Linked DNA regions of Homo sapiens. The protein of the gene in region 1 purifies or fractionates together with the protein of each later gene. This does not show direct contact. Each region holds a gene or a part of one and is shown on either strand. Other genes may lie near its edges.

Region 1 (7,298 bases):
CCATCACTGTTGCCTGGTCTTTCTGGGTAGACTGTATTGCTATCCAGAAAATATACAGCTGAGCACACAGCAGCTCCCCACAAATGCCTGTAAATGGTCCTCTAAGACCTAGCCTATCCCTTGTCCCTTCAGCTATCACTCTAGGATGGCTCGGGGCCCTTCCAAAAGTTGTCTCTAGTTCTCACAGCAACATTCCAGTAGAGAGCATTTACTACCTTTTAGGGACAAGGAGAGTGAAGCTCAAAGATGTTCAGAGGCAAGGTCACCCAGGGAGAAGGCCACATCTGGGTCCCAGGGTCCATCAGAGCCCTGTAGGGGCGGAGCTGCAGGTTCCGTTCCTACTACAGACTCCAGTCCATCTATGCAGCACAATCTTTAAAAATAGAGAAGAGTGCTGCAATTTGGCCAGGGTACGCATACCTAGGCCTCTGGGCATTCAGACTGCGGCAGACTGGCTTGGATTCCCAGACCTTCCCCCGTGTGACCCAGGGAGACATGCTTACTCCCTGTGCGGCCTTGGTTTCCTCTTCTATGAAGTGGAGATTGTAACACTTGTTTTTCCAACTGCCCAGATGCACTAGAAAAGGGACAGTTAGTGCCAGACGCCCAGTGGGCACTCCTCGGAGTTCCCCCAAAGCTCCCAAGGGCTTGTGGGAATGTAAGGGTCTAAGTAGTGCCTGGATGTCTGTACTGCCCTCGGCTTCAGACCTCCTGTTCTGGCCTCAGCCATTCCAAAAATTCCAGGGCAGGTCTGGACATGCCTGCCAGGCTGAAGCTGCTCAGACACCACCTGAGATCCCCAGTAAATCTGAATATGGCCTAGGCCTAGGGACTGCCTGTGAGCTACACAACTGTGTTCCCACCAGCAACTGTGACTGCACCAGTGGCAGGTGGGGATCCAGGTGACCCTCCTGATCCCTGTGTACACGGACATCTGCCTGAGGTGCCCCCTCCAGCACCTCCCTACCCCCTGCCCACAGGCCAAGGTGGGCTGGATGAGCAAGCCCATCTAGGCCTCCCAGAGCAGAGGTGTGGGCACTGAACTGGGGAAGGGGCAGGAGATAGATCTGAGGCTCACTGTGCTTTGTGCCCTCTGACCCTTTGCAGTCCCCACCAAGGATCAAAATCACTCACCGGGGCTCAGGGTGTCCCCCATCCTGTAGACAGCCAAGGTCTGGCTGGAAAGGAGTAAGAGGAGGAGAAAGAGGAAGGGAGGCAGTGGGAGGAGCTGGCCTAGCTTGCGGGGATCTAGCAGGACTCAGCCAATGTAGCTCCAGGTCCCTCCAGTCACCCTGTAGGGGCCAAGGCGTGGCCAAGGTGGGGCCAGCAGCTAGGCTCAGCTCTGCCTGCCCACTGGTCCAGGCTGATCCTGGGGATGCAGCCCAGTCTACCCTCTGGGGAGAGAGGTCCTCCCAGGGTTAGGGAAGCAGGAATGCTGGCTTTTGCTTTGACCACTTGAATCAAGCTAGGGGCAGACAAGGGCATGGAGGCTGGGGCACTCACACAGCTGTCAAGCCTGTAAAACCTCTGCAATGTCCAGCAGCCCATGCCACTGTCCTGTGCTACCTCTGCACATGGCAGTCAAGTGATACACACACATAGCCATCATTCACATTGGGCATGGATCATCTCAGTCGTGTCACCATCACAGATGGATCAGAGGTCCAGACAACGTCACCTGACACGTGTCAACCACACACTTCCTACATATCTCCATCATGATCGGTCACAGATATCACAGGCATTTATCATCAGTCAAATCACCATCCTCATCACTGTCAACCCTGCAGGAAACAGGGGCTGTGAGAATGCCCTGACCTGAACCAGCCTTCACCCTGTGATACCCACAGCTACACACTTGTACAAGCACAATTACACATGCATATGCCACTACGTACACAGACACATGTCCTCAGCCGTGTTCGTGCTCCGAGGGTGGGCCTTAACAAGAACAGCCCTCTGGGGGGCCTCCTGGGGTAGGAGATAGAGAAAGGGCTGTGGAGAGACGCGGGCACCTGGGAGGAAGGAGGAGGGAGATGGGGCTTACCTCTCGGCCCTGGCACCTAAGTTAAAGAGTTAAGGTGCTGGAATCTCAAACCCAGGCTTGACTGCCCCTGGGCAAGTTATATAACCGCCACCCCTCCCTTCACTGCTTCCTAATGAGAGTAACAGTACTTATCCCAAGGGTGATGCTGGAGGATTAAACGAGTTAACTCACTTCAAGTGCCTAGACACGTCCGGCTCCATGTGAGTGCTTCACTGAGGCCCACTGTCCCTACAGATCTACACCGGCGCACTCACGGGCAGTTACCCATAGACCCCCCAGTAGGCACACTCTGGCCAGAGTGCAGGTAGGCGCAGAGAGGCACACGGAGGGGTTTGGGCAGTTGGGGAGCGGATCGTCTCAAAGGCAAAGACGCTGAATCTCAAATGAGGAACCGAGGCGAGAAAAGGATGTGGGATTCACCGAAGTTGAAGGGCCGGGAAGGGCCTGAGATGGGGTCTCGGCCCTGTCCCCAAGCCGGGCGGCCCGGCCGGCTGGCCTCCCTGGGCGGCCACGTCTGCAGCCCCCGCCCGGGGCCCACAGGGGAGGAGCTGGGGTGGAGAAAGCGGCCGGGCGCGGGCGCCGGGGGCCGAGGAAAATCGTGTCTGCGCGCGCAGGGCGGGGAGCCAGTGGCAGCGGCGCGGTCCAAAAAAAGTTGAGTCCGCACCGACGTGTGCGCGCAAGGTCCCGGGATAGGTGCGGGCGCGGGCCCGGGATGGCGGCCCCGGGTGGCAGGCCCCGCTGCCCCGCCACGGCCCCTCAGAACGCGCCCTCACCGTCCGAGTCATCCAGCTCGGCGCGCTCCCCGTAGTCCACCCAACTGAGCCCCTCGAGGTTGTCATAGTCGCCGCGCCTCGGCCCGTCCACTGGCACCACGGTGAAGTGAGGCATCGTGCGGGCTCGGCCCCGCCGCACCCGCCGTCCCAGCCGCCCGCCGCTGTCCCCGCCGCTGTCCCCGCCGCCCCGGGCCGACACGCCCCGCCCGCTCGCATTCCTCCCCGCTGCGCTCACTTCCTCCGCCCGCCCCCCGGGCCGCCCCTCGGGGGCGGAGAGCGGGAGGGGCTCGGCCGGCTCCTCCCAGAGCGGGGGCCCTGGTGGCGGGAAGACCCCTGGGCGGGAGCACTCCTAGTGGCTCCACGGCCTGGGGGCGGGCCCGATTCCTGTGTGACCTCGGGTGAGAGGCCGCCCTCTCTGAGCCCCAGATGCAACATTTGTAAAATGGGGGAAACACACTTCCACCTCGGGGTTGTTTTAGGGCTCCGTGAGATGGGTCGCGGAGTGTCCTGGCTCTGCGCCCTGGGCTTACGAAGCGCTCTGTTACTTAGGGACGGGGCAGGGTAGGCCGGACCGGCCCAGGACTGCAGAAGCCACCTGCCCAGGGCCTCCCACCAACCCCGTATACCTCCTTCCCATTTCCAGCGTCTGCATCCCATTTCTCCGCGACCCTGGGAACCAGACCCCCGCGAAGGTCCCGTCCCAGCCCTGGGCCCTCTAGCTGCAGCCTCTCCTGTTGGAGGCAGCTGGGGATTCTCGGTCCCTCCCCAGGGGCTGCTGCGTCCTCCGCAGGAAGAACACGCACACCCACCCTTCCCCGCCCCGCTTGCCTCGCTTGCCTTTTTGGGACAGTGCACTGGGTGCTGTAGCCAAGTCCCTTCATTTTAACTTTCTCTATCTCGCCTCCTGGGTGTTCCTCTATCCAAGCCGTTTACTTATTTGCTTTTAACGTTTCTTTCACTTTCTTCTCCACTGCTTCAGATTACTTATCTAGCTGGCTTTACTATTTTTTTCTCTATCAGAAAACCCCAGAGCCCATCTTACTTGTCTATCTCCACTCTTCTCCCTCGCGTGGCTCGGGTGGCGTCCTCTGACTACGCCTACTGCCAGCCTCCAGCCCTTGGGGTGGGGGGTACGGAATCAGAGCCGCTGGGCCCCGCAAGACGACCCCCGAGCTTACCACCCTCTGACCCCTCCCCCAGGGCCCCCGCAGCGGGCCCGCCGACCTGACCCCCCCGCCCCTCACGCCACCTTCGGCCGCCCACAGTAGCGGCCTTCCTACTGGACTCCCTGCCCTCGCCCCTGCTCACGTAGAGCCGCCTCTTCTGAAGGAAAATCCTACTAGCTCCGGGCCCATAAGGCCCTGCCCAATGCGGCCGGACCCCGACCTCTGCAGGCGCATCCCTCGCCACCCACCTCGCAGCCTCAGCCCTTCAAATCTCTCTCTCTCACCTGAGACCTATAGTTTCTGGGCATCACCCACTGTTCACTCTGGGGGACATCTACCTAGCCTCTGTCCCTACCCTCACTTATCAAATTCCTGATCCAGGCCTGGCGCGGTGGCTCACGCCGGTAATCCCAACACTTTGGGAGGCTGAGGCGGGAGGATCACCTGAGGTCAGGAGTTTGAGACCAGCGTGGTCAAATAGTGAAACCCCGTCTCTACTAAAAATACAAAAAAATTAGCTGGGCGTGGTGGCGGGTGCTTGTAATCCCAGCTAGTTGGGAGGCTGAGGCAGGAGAATCACTTGAACCCGGGAGGCAGAGGTTTCAGTGAACCGAGATGGCGCCATTGCACTCCAGCAAGAGCGAAACACTGTCTCAAACAGACAAAAAACCTCCAAGGCCGGCCTGGTGGCTCAAGCCTGTAATCCCAGAACTTTGGGAGGCCAAGGCGGGTGGATCGCCTGAGGCTGGGAGTTCGAGACCAGCCTGGCCAGCATGGTGAAACCCCGTCTCTAATAAAAATACAAAAATTAGCTGGGTGTGGTGGCAGGTGCCTGTAATCCCAGCTACTCGGGAGGCTGAGGCAGGAGAATCACTTGAACCACGGAGGCAGAGGTTGCAGTGAGCCGAGATAGTGCCATTGCACTCCAGCCTGGGCAACAGAGCAAGACTCTATCTCAAAAACAAACAAACAAACAAAAAACCTCCTGATCCAGGAGGTCTTGGTGGGGAGCACCACCTCCCCTCAGATTTCTCAGACACATGCCCTGCCACCCCACCCCACCCCTCATCTGGACTGGGCTGCCCTGAGCCTTTCCCTTCATAGTTCCCATTGCAGGCAGAAATGGATTGGTGGAAATCACTGATTAAGATTCTATCTATACTGTGGACTTTGCAAGGGCAGGACCCTGTCGGTCTTGTCACTCTGGTATCCTCAAAACCTGGCTGGCCCCAACACATTTTTTTTTTTTAAGATCTTAGAGGTGTTTGTTTGTTTGTTTTAATTTAGAGAGAGGGTCTTGCTCTGTCACTTTGGGCTGGAGTGCAGTGGTGCAATCACAGCTCACTGCAGCCTCAAACTCCTCAAATGATCCTCTCCCCTCAGCCTCCCAAGTAGCTAAGATGCCACCATGCCCAGCTAATTTTATTTATTCATTTCTCATAGAGACAGGGTCTCACTTTGCTGCACAGGCTGGTCTCAAACTCCTGGGCTCAGCGATCCTCCCACCTTGGCCTCTCCTAAAGTGCTAGGATTACAGTCGTGAGCCACTGCTCCCGGTCCCAACACATTTTTCAAATAAAGAATGAACAGGTGCCCTCTTAGTCTACCTCTTTGCTCTGCAAAGTTTCCGTATAGCTCCCACCCTGGCACTGCACACCCTGCAGCCTCAGGGGTAGGGTGGGGTGTTGTGCCAGGGAGATAGGCCACTAGAGCCCAACTGACAAACACAGAGGGGACGATGGGGAACTCCGAGGCCAGTACACATCTTCTCCAATATCACAGCCATCACAGGAAAAATAACCTCACAGGCCAAACTCAAAAGACATTTGAGGAGCATAGACATTAGGCCGGGCGCGGTGGCTCACGCCTGTAATCCCAGCCCTTTGGAAGGCTGAGGTGGGCAGATCACGAGGTCAGGAGATCGAGACTATCCTGCCTAACACGGTGAAACCCCGTCTCTACTAAAAATATAAAAAAATTAGCTGGGTGTGGTGGCGGGCGCCTGTAGTCCCAGCTACTGGGAAGGCTGAGGCAGGAGAATGGCGTGTACCCGGGAGGTGGAGCTTGCGGTGAGCGGAGATGGCGCCACTGGCACTCCAGCCTGGGCGACAGAGTGAGACTCTGTCTCAAAAAAAAAAAACCATAAATCAGGAATATCTAGAATATCTAGATCGAAAATTCAAAATTCAGTTGGGAGTGGTGGCTCCCACCTATAATCCCAGCACTTTGGGAGGCCGAGGCAGGCAGATCACCTGAGGTCAGGAGTTCGAGACCAGCCTGGTCAACATGGTGAAACCCCATCCCTACTAAAAATACAAAATTTGGATGGGTGTGGTGGCAAGCACCTGTAATCCCAGCTACTTGGGAGGCTGAGGTGGGAGAATTGCTTAAACCTGGGAGGTGGAAGTTGCAGTGAGCTGAGATGGCACCACTGCACTCCAGCCTGGGCAACAGTGCAAGTTGCCTGGGCAACTGCACTCCAGCCTGGGCGACAGAACAAGACTCCATCTCAAAATAATAATAATAAAAATAAATAAATAAAATAAATAAATAAATAAAATAAAACAATTAGCCTGGCGTGGTGGCATGTGCCTGTAGTCCCAGCTATCTAGGAGGCTGAGGCAGGATAATCACTTGAACCCAGGAGATGGAGGTTGCAGTGAGCCAAGATCGGGCCACTGCATTCCAGCCTGGGAGACAGAGCGAGACTCTGTCTGAAAAAGAAAAATTAGCCAGGTGTGGTGGCACATGTCTGTAATTCCAGCTACTCCGGAGGCTGAGGCACAAGAATTGCTTAAACCTGGGAGGCGGAGGTTGCAGTGAGCTGAGATCATGCCACTGTACTCCAGCCTGGGCGACTGAGCAGGACTCCGTCTCAAAAAAAAAAAAAAAAAAAGCAGGCCAGGCACCATGGCTCATGCCTGTAATCCTAGCACTTTGGGAGGTCAAGGTGGTTGGATCACCTGAGGTCAGGAGTTCAAGACCATCCTGACCAACATGGTGAAACCTCGTTTCTACTAAAAATACAAAAATTAGTTGGGCGTGATGGCAGGCACCTGTAATCCCAGCTACTTGGGAGGCTGAGGCAGGAGAATTGCTTGAACCTAGGAGGTGGAGGTTGCAGTGAGTCAAGATCGCACCATTGCACTCCAGCCCGGGCAACAAGAGCAAAACTCCGTCTCAAAAAACAGAAAAAAGCATGTGGTGGTTAACTGCTTAATGGGTATAGGGTGGGTGCCTGGGACTACAGGCACACACTACCATGCCTGGGTCTTACATTTCTGCTTGTTCTTTTTCTTTCATTTTTTTTTA
Region 2 (7,022 bases), on another chromosome or scaffold:
TCCCAAAGTGCTGGGATTACAGGTGTGAGTCACCATGCCCCCCGGCCAAAGTGTACTTTTAAAAAAGAAAAGAGTCAGGCTCACTGGCCTGACTCTATAGTCCCAGCTACTCAGGAGGCTGAGGCAGGAGGATCACTTGAGCCAGGAGTTCCGGGCTGTAGTACGCTATAATCATGCCTGTGAATGGACTGCACTCCAGCCTGGGCAACACAGAAAGACCCCGTCTCAAAAAACAAACCAACTAACCAACCCTAAGCAAGTATTAAGTGTTGGTTCTCGGAAAATCTGAATCATCCAAGTTAGAAAGTAGAAAGCAAATGGAAAAGTAGTAATTGACCTAAAAGACTCAATAATGATCAATTTTAAACCGACAATGGGGAAAGCTGAGAAAGCTGATTTGGACCACAGAACCCCCATTGACTTAGGAATTGTCTGGGCCAAGTACATCTAGAAATAAAGGTAAAGATGGAGCTAAAAACAGAAGGAAGGGATGAAAGTCTATTTAACAAGTAGATTAACACTCTCTTCTATTCCCTCTTCTGTTCAACACAGCTGAAAATTAGAAGATAATGCTGCTGAGAAAGAAAAACGGGGTTTCTGTACTAGGGATTACAAGGTACAGCTGAGGGATAGAGTACAAACAATATTAAAAGCAAGGAGACTAAATGCATTTACTGTATGTTATGACTTCAAACCCTCTCTCCATTCACCTCCAAGAACACTGACAACCAAGATTCTCTCCAGCAGTGCACTGAGTAATTCTTCTTCAGGGAATCTGACCAGCAAAAAGACTTAAAGACCTAACATCAGAGACTCCCAAAAAGGAACTCAGCAAGATCATTCTGCAGTAAAGACCCACAAACCCACACAAGAGCATAAAAAACAAAAACAAAAACACAACTCTCAGTGCTCACCTCTTAAATAGAAGCAAATAGCCAAGAAACACTAGTTTTTTGAGGACCACATCAAACAGGAAATAGAGAAACTAAAACAAGCAGAGATGAAAAACAATTTACAAAAACTAAATATGCAGGAAGAAAAAAGTCATGTATCTTATTAACATCTTCAAAATGACAAGAAAAGGTAAAAATTGGGAATTAAAAAGATGCTACAGAAGGCTGGGTGTGGTGACTCCCACCTGTAATCCCAGCACTTTGGGAGGCCAAGGGGGCAGATCACTGAAGGTCAAGAGTTCGAGACCAGTCTGACAAACAGTGAAATCACGTCTCTACTAAAAATACAAAAATTAGCCAGGTATGGTGGCAGATGCCTGTAATCTCAGCTACTCAGGAGACTGAGGTATGAGAATCGTTTGAACCCGGGAGGTAGAGGTTGGAGTAAGCCAAGATTGCACCATTGCACTCCAGCCGGGGTGACAGGGCAAGATTCTGTCTCAAAAAAACAAAAACACAGATGCTACAGAAAGGAACATTCAGAAGATGAACAAAAACACTCTTTGAAATTAAAATGATAAGAACTGGCACGGTGGCTCATGCCTGTAATCCTAGCACTCTGGGAGACCGAGGCCAGGCAGATCGCATGAGCTCAGGAATTCGAGATGAGCCTGGGCAACATGGCAAAACGCCATCTCTACCAAAAATACAAAAAATAGCCGGCCTTGGTGGCGCATGCTTGTGGTTCCAGCTACTCAAGAGGCCGAGGTGGGAGGATCACTTGAGCCTGGAAGGCACAGGTTGCGGTGAGCTGAGATTGCACCACTGCACTCAAGCCTGGGTGACAGAGTAAGACTCCAGCTCAAAAAAAAGAAAAAAAAAATTAAAATGATAGCAGAAAAAAATAATAAAAAAATGGAAGAAAGTTGAGAAAAATCTTATGAGAATTAAAACAGAAGCTTAAGGAAATGAAAGAGACCAGATGAAATAAAATCAGGAAGTCTAATAAAAAGTCCAAGCCAGGTGAGGTGGTGCATGCCTGTAATTCCAGAGTCAGGAGCTTGAGGCGGGAATCACTTGAGGCCAGGAGTTGGAAAGCAGCCTGGCAACACAGCAAGACCTCGTTTGCTAAAAAAATTTTTTTTAATCAGCCGAGCGCAATGGCGAATGCCTCTAATCCCAACAGCTCCAGAGGCTGAGGTGGGAGGATCACTTGAGCCCAGGAGCTCGTGGCTGCAGTGAGCTATAATGGCACCCCTGTACTGTAGCCTGGGTGAGACAGCAAGGAGTTCAAGACTAACCTGGCCAACATGGCCACTCACTGCAACCTCTGCCTCCCGGGCTCAAGTGACTCTCCTGCCTCAGCCTCCTGAGATGGGATTACAGATGCACGCCATCATGCCCAGCTAATTTTTTGTATTTTAGTAGAGACAGGGTTTCACCATGTTGGCCAGGCTAGTCTCCAACTCCAGACCTCGCCGGGCACAGTGGCTCATGCCTGTAATCCCAGCACTTTGGGAGGCCGAGGCAGGCAGATCACGAGGTCAGGAGATCGAGACCATCCTGGCTAACACGGTGAAACCCCGTCTCTACTAAAAGTACAAAAAATTAGCCGGGCATGGTGGCGGGCGCCTGTAGTCCCAGCTACTCCGGAGGCTGAGGCAGGAGAATGGCATGAACCCGGGAGGCAGAGCTTGCAGTGAGCCGAGATTGCGCCACTGCACTCCAGCCTCGGTGACTGAGCGAGATTCCGTCTGAAAAAAAAACAAAAAAACAAAAAAACTCCAGACCTCAAGTGATCTGCCCACCTAGGCCTCCCAAAGTGCTGGGATTACAGGCGTGAGCCACCACGCCCAGCCTTAGCTCTACTTTTAAAAGCAGTGGCACTCATCATGCTATATTGTATTAAGTATTGTGTATTTCTTCCCTGATAAAACGTAAATTCCTTAAAAGTAAGCACTACCAAACCACCTGACACTGTAGCAATTTTCAATAAAGATTTGTTAAATTAAAACACTTTCTGAGCACTTCTCATGTGCCCAGCACTCTTCTAAATGTTTTGCATTATTTGACTAGTTTAAATGTCACAATAACTCTATGATAGGTCTATTATCTTTATGTTATAGATAAGGAAAAATGGGGCATAAAGACATGTTGAGTAATCTGCCAAAGGTCAGTAGCCACTGCTAAAACATGAAACCTAGACTCTTACTCTCCATCTCTACCAGTCCTCTAGTGCTCTAAATCATTAACTGTATGTACCACGCAGTTTTAAGGCTTCAGAACAAGATATGAAAAACTGGCAACATTATAACAGGAGATACAATTGACTTGATATTACCTAACCCAGCAGTTTACAAAGAGTGGTCTACTGACCCCTTAGGATCTCCCAAGACCTTTGGGGAGGTCCACAAACTCCTGGATGTCAAAACCATTTTCATAAGATTAAGATGTTATTTGAATTTTTCACTCTTACTCTCTTGAAATGTATTGTGGAGTTTCCCCGTGCCTATATGATGTGTAATATTACAGGATTGAATGCATAAGCAGCTATGCAAATCCAATTGTCCTCTATTAAGTCAGACATTAAAGAGATTTGCAAATATGTAAAACAATGTCACTCTCACTAAATATCTGTTTGGAAAATAGTTCTTTTTCATTTCAGAAATGATGTTAACATGAAGGCTGGGCACAGTGGCTCATGCCTGTAATCCCAGCACTTTGGGAGACCAAGGCAAGCAGGTCACTTGAGGCCAGGAGTTTGAGACCAGCCTGGCCAATATAGCAAAACCCTGTCTCTACTAAAAAGTCAAAAAATTAGCCAGGCATGGCGGCATGTACCTGTGGTCCCAGCTATTCAGGAGGCTGAGGCATGAGAATCGCGAACCCGGGAGGCACTCACTCCATCCTGGGCAACAGAGGGATGCAGTCAAAAAAAAAAAGGGTATTAACATGCAATGGGTTTATTATTATTATTATTATTTTTTTGAGATGGAGTTTTGCTCGTTGCCCAGGCTGGAGTGCAATGGCGTGATCTTGGCTCACTGCAACCTCCACCTCCCGGGTTCAAGGGACTCTCCTGCCTCAGCCTCCTGAGTAGCTGGCACTACCACTGGGACCGTCCACCACCATGCCAGGCTAATTTCTTTGTATTTTTAGTAGAGACGGGGTTTCACCATATTGGCCAGGTTGGTCTCAAACTTCTGGCCTCAAGTGATCCGCCCACCTCGGCCTCTCAAAATGCTGGGATTACAAGCATGAGCCACCACGCTCGGCCCTATTATTTTTTAACATATTAAATATTTTGAAATTTTCTTTTTCAATACAGTAAATGTTGATATATTTATTCATTTATTTTGAGATGGAGCCTCACTCTGTTGCCCAGGCTGGAGCGCAGTGGCACGATCTTGGCTCACTGCAACCTCCACCTCCCGAGTTCAAGCAATGCTCCTGCCTCAGCCTCCCGAAGAGCTGGGACTACAGGCACGCACCACCATGCCCGGCTAATTTTGTATTTTTAGTAGAAACGGGGTTTCGCCATGTTGCCCAGGCTGGTCTCGAACCCCTGACCTCAGGTGATCCACCCACTTCGGCCTCCCAAAGTGCTGGGATTATAGGCGTGAGCCACCGCACCCGGCCTAAATGTTGACATAAACTACATAAACAAAAGTCAGGCACAGTGGCATGTGCCTATAGTCCCAGCTACTAGGGAGGCTGAGGCAGGAGGAGAGCTTGAGACAAGGCTGCAGTTGGCCATGATAGCCCCTGTGAACAGTCACTGCATCCAAGAAGGGGGAAGGAAATGGGAAGAGGAAAGGAGGAAGGAAGGGAGAAAAGGAAAGGAAGGGGGAGGTGGAAAGGGGGAAGGAAGGGAGAAGGGGGAAGGAAGAGAAAGAAGAGGAGGAGGAGGAAGAAGAACAAGAGGAGGAGGAGAAGGAAGAGGAGGAGGAAGAAGAGGAGGAGGAGAAAGAAGAGGAGGAGGAGGAAGAAGAACAACAATAACAACTACATTAACAGAGCTCTTCAGGATCCTCAAAAATTTGTAAGAGCAGAAAGGGGTCTTGGGGAAAAAAAGTTTAAAAACCACTGATCTAGCCAATATAAAATGTTCAGTACTGGCCAGGCGTGGTGGCTCACACCTGTAATCCCAGCACTTTGGGAGGCTGAGGCCGGAGGATCTCGCCAGCTCAAAACTTTGAGACCAGCCTGGGCAACATGGTAAAATCCCATCTCTACAAAAAAATACAAAAATTAGCCAGGCGTGGTGGTGCGTGCCTGTTGTCCCAGCTACTTGGGAGGCTGAGGTGGGAGGATCACTTGAGCCTGGGAGGTGGAGGGTGCAGTGAGCTGAGATCACACCACTGCACTCCAGCCTGAGTGACAGAGGTAGACCCCGTCTCAAAAGAAAAACAACTGGTCAGTACTGCTAGTCTCTGACAATAAGACATTTTTTCCTTATCTAACATATTGCAATTTGATCAGCATTGATGGAAAAAAAGAAAAGGCAATATAAAGTGAAAAAAACAGTAGTAGGCTGAGTATGCGCTTCTCTCTGCCATTACATCTCCTAATTTATAATTGGTAACATGTATATATAGTGAAATCTTCTACTGTAAACCACTGAGTGACATTACTAAAACTGCCTCTGCATCTCAAGACAATAGCCAGAGGTAGTAACAAAACAGACTCCTCAAGGAAACTTCCAATTGTGTATTTCAACATTCCTTTATTTATTTATTTAGAGACAAAGTCTCGCTCTGAGGCCCAGGCTGGAGTGCAGTGGGGCAATCTCAGTTCACTGCAACCTCCACCTCCTGGGTTGCAGTTTTCCTGCCTCAGCCTCCTGAGTAGCTGGGATTACAGGCACACGCCACCACGCCCAGCTAGTTTTTGGATTTTTAGTAGAGATGGGATTTTGCCATGTTGGCCAGGCTGGTCTTGAACTCCTGACCTCAGGTGATTTGCCTGCCTCGGACTCCTAAAGTGCTGGGATTACAGGCGTGAGCCACCACGCCCAGCCAAACATTCCTTTATTAAACCGTAAGAATTTATCTAAGGTTAAGATTGATGTCATTAACTCAATCTGCTTCATGTACTGACACAATTCATTTTCACTATAGAGCGTAGTATCTTAAATATACATACATATATATATATATATATATATATATATATATTTTTTTTTTTTTTTTTTTTTTTTTTTTTCTTGAGACAGAGTCTCACTCTGTCACCCAGGCTGCAGTGCAATGGCATGATCTCAGCTCACTGCACCCTCCGCCTCTCAGGTTCAAGCGATTCTCCTGCCTCAGCCTCCTGAGTAGCTGGGATTACAGGCTCCCACCCGCCATCATACCTGGATAATTTTTGTATTTTTGTAGAGACCGGGCCATGGGGTGGGGGGGAGCCGGGGACTCCACCATGTTAGCCAGGCTGGTCTTGAACTGCTGACCTCAGATGATTCACCTATCTCAGCCTCCCAAAGTGCTGGGATTACAGGCATGAACCACCGCACCCAGCCTAGTATCTTAAATTTTTGATAAGCCAAATAAAACCTAATTTCAAATCAGTTCCATGAGCACATCATTGGTATAATTTGAATACTTTTCATGCGTTACATTAATAGCAAATAATTTAACAACTTTAATAAAGGAAGACGAATTTTGCTCAACTCAAAAAAAAGTACAAAATTCAGGTCAGTCCTATTTTTTGAATGAAATGGTTGGGCCTCTAAACGATTGGTTTCTCTACCCCCTTAAGTATCTGATATATTCCTGTATACAATCAAATGATGTAAGTTTTAAGTGTTATTGTTAAACTATCAATTGCGTAACCATGTCAAAGAGTGTAACATAGGCTACTAGCTTTCGTTACTACTAGATTCAGCCATCATTCATTTACCCAACATGTCTGAACAGCTACTATGAGCCTGGCTCTACGCTAGGCAATGGGGACACACTGAACAAAAAAGAATAGTTTTTATCTTCATGGGAGTTGCATTCTTCTGTGGGAAATAAAAACAAACACATAAAAAATAAGATAATTGTAAATGTGGTAAATGCTATTAAGAAGAAACAAGGCTTTGCCATAGATTACAGTCTTTGAAAGCTGAATTGTGGAATTCTAACAGAC
Region 3 (6,953 bases), on another chromosome or scaffold:
AGGCAAGGTAGAAGAAGCGGCTGTGGAGGTGACTCCCCATCCCATAAGGCTTAGAGATGCACATACATGTCCCCTACCTAACTCAAAAGCTGTGTAAAACCTAAAAGAACCCACTAACAATGCAACAAATTGGAAACAGGCTTTTCAGGGCCTTGGGACTCCCTGACAGAAGGCACCAGGGTGGCCAGCAGCCCATCTCACTGATAGCAGTGACTCTCTAATGACCATGTTCCAAGGGCTCACAACCCTGCTCCTTACCAACTACTCAGCATTCCTACCAGTCACAAGCCCCAACTATAAGCCTGGCTGGACAGAAGCAACCCTTACTCCCTCTTGGGGAGGCTCCCCAGTTGTTGGCTTCCCCAATTCAAGGTCATCTTACTTCACAATGACACGCTAGTGAAAAATATTGGACTGGAAATGAGAGGTGGGGCTCCAGCCCAGAAGCATTAGCAACTCACAATGGGACTCTGGGACTCCAGGCAAGGCCTCCCTGTTCCCTGGGGCTCAGACTTCCCATTTGAACATATGGGAGAGGTGGTGGGTTCATTTCTTAGGCTTCAGCTCTCATTTCTGTGATTTTGGGAGCAAAGGGGGTCTGTGGAGCCCAGCAGGGGCCTCCGTTCATCAGGGATTCTGAAGGAGCCCAGATGTTCCCTCAAACTCACCAGAGACACTTTCTTCACCAAACTCCTAGTCCTTTCTGAAGCTTGTGCAGACTTAGAACAAATGTTTGCTGAGAACCTACCAGGGGCCAGGCACTTTGAGAGGCACTAAAGAAACATGAAGAAGTAAGAGAATTGTCTTCAAGCAACCATTTTTCAGAGACAGAAAGTGAGTCACAGAGAGGCCTCAAATTTTACTAAAGACAACACAGCTAAGAATTCAACCCCCAGGCTGCCTGATCCCTGCAGGTTATCTCCCAGGGCTCCAGGCCGGGTGAGACTAGCACTGGGATGTGAATACCACCAAAATCCCTTCCAGACACAGGGTATGGTCAGCTCTATGAAACTGGGATCTATTAAAAACAGGCAATCAGAATCCAGGGCAAACGCTGGCTGGCTGAGTGGATCTTCTTCTGAAATGCCCAGCCTGTCCCCCAAACCCATCTCCATACTGGGCCTGGACACTACCTTCTAACGTCCTTCTCTGAACCATCCATCTTAGGCAATGAGTATCAGCAGACAAGAGCCAGCCACGTGACCTCCATAACCCTCATGTACACACAGCACAGTAGCACTGTTCCTGGGCCCACCCAGTCCTCCCACAGCTGCCTTTCTTTTGGGCCCCCTTGTCAGAGAGGCACCAACCCAGGTGAACAGGACTGGTCTGCAGAGGCAGAGCTGGGGTCCTGTCCCGCAAGGACAGCCTTCTCCCAGAGCAGAGCTGACCAGAGCTCAGTTTGTCTCCCTGCAGCCCCATGCGAGAGGCCTCTGGAGGGATGCTCTGAAAGCCACTCCTTCCTACAGGTGGCAGAGGGGTCCCTGCCCTTCAATCTGGGCTTCCCGCCTCTAGGGACTAACCTGGTTTTCAGAGATGTTTTCCTGGGGAGGGAGCCGGGCAGCGGAGAAGCAGTCTCCCCCTCCCCCAGCTCTGGCCGACTGCCAGGGTGACCTCCCCTCCCCCAAGAAGGGCGGTGAGCTGGGAGGTGGGGGTGGGAAGAATCCACCGATGCTCTCTGGAGGAGTGCTGGGAAGCTAGGCAGGGCGTGTCGCCTGGGCCTTTCTCTGCCCAGAGCCAGACTTCACAGCCTCTCGGTGTGAGGTGCCCCTGTATCATTCCCCAAATCGCCTCGAGTTGGGGTAGCCCTCACTGCAATTGCCCAGATCCCTGGGCAGCAAGGAGACTAACAAGCGCCGGCGAAGGGCAGCGGGTCTAGAACCTTCTGTGCCCAGTCGGACGTGAGCCAGGGGAGGTAGGCTCCCCGTTCCCCCATGGCCTGCACTCGCTCTTTCGAGCAGAGACAGGTGTCGCTCTTTTCTCCCCGGTGGCTGTTTGTCCCACGCCCTGGACGTGCCCTTTCGCATGGTTCCCAGCAGGGTCCGCAGGGAACACCCCTCCAGTGCAGCGGAGTGAGGCCCGGCCAGACCCCAGCTTCGCTTCGTTCTCCAAGGGGGGCGCCCGTCGCTCTCCCCACCCCCGCCAGCACCCAGCCACCTGCGCGGTCGCCCGCAGCCGGTGCCGCAGTGTGAGCTAGCCAGCGAGCCCGGTTCCTTCACGCCCTGGCCAGCGCCGCGGAGCCAGCCGCCGCCCTCCGGGCCCCCTGCAGCGCCGCACCTGCACCCACACCCCGGGCCCCCCACCCAGAGCCCACCCTCACCTCCACCCCAGGCTCCAGCGCCTCCTCCGTCCTCACCCTTGGCCCCTCCCCAGCCCGACCCCGCCCCGACCTCCCCATCCCTGTCCCTCTCCTCTACCCTGGCAAGGAGGGGCCTTTCCGAGCCTGGGCCGGGGGTCCCAATGGGGTGGGCGATTGGGCGGCGGGGGTCGACTCGGCGACAAGCCAAGAGATTAAGCCGGGTACTTACCGCTCTGCTCCCCCAAGAACACCAACTTGAATTTTCTCAGTGGATTCCCAAAATCTCCCCCTGCGGACATGGTGCTGGCAGCCGGGGCCGGGAGAGGAGGAGGAGGAAAAAGCGAAGGAGCAGGGAGGGGAGAGTAGGAGGGCGAGGGGAGGCGGCCGGCGGTGCGGGAGCCGGAGGGGGAAGGGCTGGCTGCGCGCGTCCCTGACTCCCCAGCTGCGTCCCGGTCCCGGCCTGCGGCTGCGTGTCCGGCGGCGGAGGAGGAGGAGGAGAGAGAGGCGGAGGCGGAGGAAGGCTGGGGCTGGGCTGCTGCGGTCGGCACTGGCTGCGGTGCGAGGGGCGCGCTCTTTACGCCCGAGGCGCGGCGCTGGGAGAGAGGCGCGGGCGGAGCGGGGCGCAGGGACGGCGCGCGGGGCGGAGGAGCGCTCTCCAGAGCCGCGCCAGTCGGCCCCCTCCCGCCTGCCTCCTCCGCCGGCGCCTGCGCTCTGTGCGCTCCCCAGCCTCTGATGTCATGCGGGGCCCGCGGGGCTGCGGGGCTGGGGGGCGTGCGCCCGCCCACCCGAGCCCGCACCCGGGCAGGAGAGAACCTCCTCGCCGTACCCCTGAGAGCCCCCCGGGGGGGACCGTGTCTCGCTGCCCCGCTGCGTCTGTCTTCCCCACTCTACCCCTCTTTTGAATCCAGAAAATGACAGAAATTGTCAGGGGACATTTGTTTCTGGTCTTTTAAACCTAGATGCCAGTCCCTTCCTCCACCTCGCGAGACACCGATGCACAGCGCAGTCGTCCGACCGACAGGGCGGAAAGGAACGAAGGTGGGGGAGAGCCAGGGTGTGGCGAGGCCCGTCAGGGCGGTCAGACCTAGGGAAACCTGGCGTACTTGGCGCAGATGGGGCTCGACTCTTGCCCCCCGTGGCTTCTAGCCCGCCCTTCCCTCTCGAGGCCTAGACCCTTTATTTGGGCGGCCTCTTGTGGAGTCTGTGGGTGCCCCCGCAGACCTGGCCAGCGAGAGAGGAGCTGCCAATATCAGGCGCGCCTACCTCAAACCAGCTGCTCATTTGGATCATTTTATGCCAAATCCTAACCTGCCCCATGGGAGAGAAGGAACGGTGACGCTCTGAATGCCAGTGCCACTATCTCCAGGACAGTGCCCTGCGTTTCTTGATCCCGGGGTCGCCAGGCTGACAATGCCACTCCCCACCCTGGCAATTAGGTGTATCTGGACAATGAGCTATCTGAGGACATGTGGGCGACCTCTCCTTGGCCTCTACTTGCCTGGTCCATCGAGGCACACAGACCAAGTTGTGAGTGAGTGAGAGCAAAGAGCAGACGCCAAGTGCTAGAAACACTCCCAAGACAGCCCGAGCCTAAGGCATGCTGGTTAATTGAGGTTTTACAAAGCTGTCCCTTACTGTTCTGCCACAGCGTGGTCTTGTTCATTTATGGCTGTTCAGTGAGCATTTATTTGAGATAATAATCTGCATGTCGGTGAACACGATGGTGTGTGCACGCATGTGTTATAGAAAGAGAAAGAGGAGTGAGACACAACCTTCACCTCCAGATTTCTCGTGGACACTTGTTACCCCCTTTTTGACTTATGGGGCTTGCTTGGGCAAGCCTATCTGTCTCCCTGGTGTGCTCACCTCGAATCTCTTTCCTATTTCTTGTTAGAAACCTGACCACAAGTTCCATAAAAGCAGTAGTTGAAGCTCCACCACTGCATCCCAAGGACATAGCTCAGAGTTTAAGAAATAGTTGTTGAATGTTTGAATGAACATCTAGAACTCAAATCAAAATAACTGTCCTATTCTCATAATTACCTTTAGTTTGGAACCCCAGGGATTGTAAGTCATCACCTAGAATATCTGCCCCGTTGTGGCTGGCACCAGGCTCAGGGTAACCCTCCAGACACCCACCCACTTCTCTGGGGCTCCTGCTCTCTTAGGAGACCATATCCAGCTTGGGGTTGAAGAAAGCTCTGAAAGGAGAGGAGACTCCCAAGTCACAGCCCTTCCCGTCTCTATAAGTGATCCCTCCAAAGAAGGGCCAGTGAGCTACTGGCCAAGGTACCCAGCCATGCAACACTCCTCCAACCTGCACCTTCTCCTAACATCTAGTGCTGTCTCCCTGTACCCTCTCATCCTGACCTGATGAGATCATCGGTGGCAAGACAAAACAGCTGAGGTGTGCCAGAAAAGGCACCATCTTTTGGGTAAGCCTAGGCAGGTCCTGTACCTCCTCTGATCATCTGGTCCCGCACATGTAAGGTGGTATGGCAGTAGGGGAGGGAGGGCTGGGGCAGGGCCCCTCTGGGCACCTCTAAGCCTCCAAGTCATCCCATATGCTTACCAGGTCCAGCTGGGCTGACTATGGTCCAGCTTACTTTGGGGGACTCTGTCATAATTCTTCCAGTTCAAATGACAAAAACCCGGCTCCGACTACCGGGCTCACGTCGCTGGAGCAGATACTGGCATTGCTCTCAGAATGCAGTCATCATGCTGTGGAAATGAGAGCCTTAGAGACTCCAAGTTTGCTCTGCTCCAAGTCTCTCTCCTCCAACTATCATTGCTTATCTCCCCTGATTTTGAGTCTTGTCCTTAACCTGCCCTAAAGCAGACAGACTTTCTCCAGGTGGAAAATGGGGCCACTGAACCTCAGCCTGGCAACCTCACTAGAAAGAGTTTCTTCCATATCATAGAATCTGTGCATTCCATTTAAAAAAATTCTTTAAATCTTCCTATTTAGTATGTGCTGTGTATATGTAAGTTACAAAGAAAACCTATCACTCTGAGTGCCCATTTACCCTCTACACAGCTGGAGGGCTCAAATATTATAGTACTTTTCAGGCCCCCAGGTGCTTTCTTCTCCTTCCTCCCTCCCCAACTTGGAAATCCAGAATCTTAGCTTTTCTTTGAGTTTTATCACATTGGATGTGTCCTTCACAATACTTTGTTTTGTTTTGCATCTTTTGAATCTTATATAAGGTATCAAACTGTGTTTTCTGTCCTGACTTGCATGTTTCTTAACATCATGTTTCTGAGATCCATTTGTTAATTCATGTAGCAGCAGTTCTTTCATTTTCACTGCTGGTTAGTATTCTAGTTATGCCCCAATTTTTAAATGATTTTCTGTAAAATGTGTCATTTAAAATTTTTATTTTATTTTATTTTATTATTGTTGTTATTATTTTTGAGATGGAGTCTTGGTCTGTCACCAGGCTGGAGTGTAGCGGCGCCATCTCGGCTCACTGTAACCTCCGCCTCCCAGGTTCAAGCAATTCACCTGCCTCAGCCTCCCGAGTAGCTGGTACTACAGCCACGCACCACCAGGTCTAGCTAATTTTTTTATTTTTAGTAGAGCCGAGGTTTCACCATGTTGACCAGAATGGTCTCAATCTCTTAACCTCGTGATCCGCCTGCATCAGCCTCCCAAAGTGCTGGGATTACAGGTGTGAGCCACCACGCCTGGCCTTTTTTAAAATTATTTTAAATAATTTTATACTCACATAGAGGTTATAAAAAACAGTGCAGGGAGTTACTATGTATCCTGCACCAAGCTACCCCAGTGATAACATCTTACATAACCACATTGCTTAGTAAAACCAGGAAATTAACATTGGAAAATGCACTCAGTTTTGTTTCTGCTATTAACAAACAATGCTGCCATCAACATTCTTTACATGTCTCTTGATGCCTCTGTGAAGTTTTTCTAAGATATGTGTCAGTAGGTAAATTGTGGTATAAAAACAAGTGTACGTTTAATTTTGTGCCAAACTATTTTTCAAAGATATTCGTTAGATCATATAGCACTACAGCATCATCTATATTTTTCATTTTCTTCAAGATCTTGGTTTTCCTGAGCCCTTTGCTGTGTTATATATATATATATATATATTTAAATTAAATTTTTGAGATCATTGTAGATTCACAAACAGGAAAAAAAAAAAAGACAGATCTGTATATCCTTTATCTAGTTTTCACCAAGAGTAAGATCTTGCAGAACTTTATACTACAGTATCATAATGTGGATACTGGAATTAAGACAGTCAAGGTACATTTCTGTTCTGTACCTTGACACACAAAGAGCCCTCATGTTCCCCTTTTATAGCCACACCCACTTTCCTCCCACCCTCAACCCCTTCCTAACCTCTGGCAACCACTAATCTGTTCTTCATTTCAATAAATGTGTTATTTCAAGAATCTTATATAAGTGGCATTACACAGTATATCACCCTTTGGGATTGTTTTTTTCACTTCACCTGGCTGGAGCACTCAAATATTACAGTACTTTTGAGGCCCTCAGGTGTTTCTGCCCCTCCCTCTCTCCCCAGCTTGAAAATCCAGAACTGTGGCTTTTCTTTGAGTTTTTATCACATTTGGATGTGTCCTCCAACAATACTTTTTTGTTTTGCATCTTTTGAATTTTATATAA

The links. The genes of interacting proteins can lie anywhere in the genome.
Region 2: the proteins of SLC12A4 (region 1) and RAB6A purify together in Homo sapiens (co-immunoprecipitation; 2 studies listed by BioGRID and IntAct, with this or other methods). This does not show direct contact.
Region 3: the proteins of SLC12A4 (region 1) and RAB6B purify together in Homo sapiens (co-immunoprecipitation; 3 studies listed by BioGRID and IntAct, with this or other methods). This does not show direct contact.

The regions. Positions count from the first base shown.
Region 1 is NC_000016.10:67,965,619-67,972,916, forward strand, and holds the start of SLC12A4 (solute carrier family 12 member 4), read right to left. Parts: upstream 2,936-7,298; coding exon 2,821-2,935; intron 1,177-2,820; exon of another isoform or gene 1,157-1,176; coding exon of another isoform or gene 1,135-1,156; intron 1-1,134. UniProt on the Homo sapiens protein: Mediates electroneutral potassium-chloride cotransport when activated by cell swelling. May contribute to cell volume homeostasis in single cells. May be involved in the regulation of basolateral Cl(-) exit in NaCl absorbing epithelia.
Region 2 is NC_000011.10:73,751,061-73,758,082, forward strand, and holds part of RAB6A (ras-related protein Rab-6A), read right to left. Parts: intron 1-7,022. UniProt on the Homo sapiens protein: The small GTPases Rab are key regulators of intracellular membrane trafficking, from the formation of transport vesicles to their fusion with membranes.
Region 3 is NC_000003.12:133,892,869-133,899,821, forward strand, and holds the start of RAB6B (ras-related protein Rab-6B), read right to left. Parts: upstream 3,015-6,953; 5' UTR 2,599-3,014; coding exon 2,529-2,598; intron 1-2,528. UniProt on the Homo sapiens protein: The small GTPases Rab are key regulators of intracellular membrane trafficking, from the formation of transport vesicles to their fusion with membranes. Rabs cycle between active GTP-bound and inactive GDP-bound states.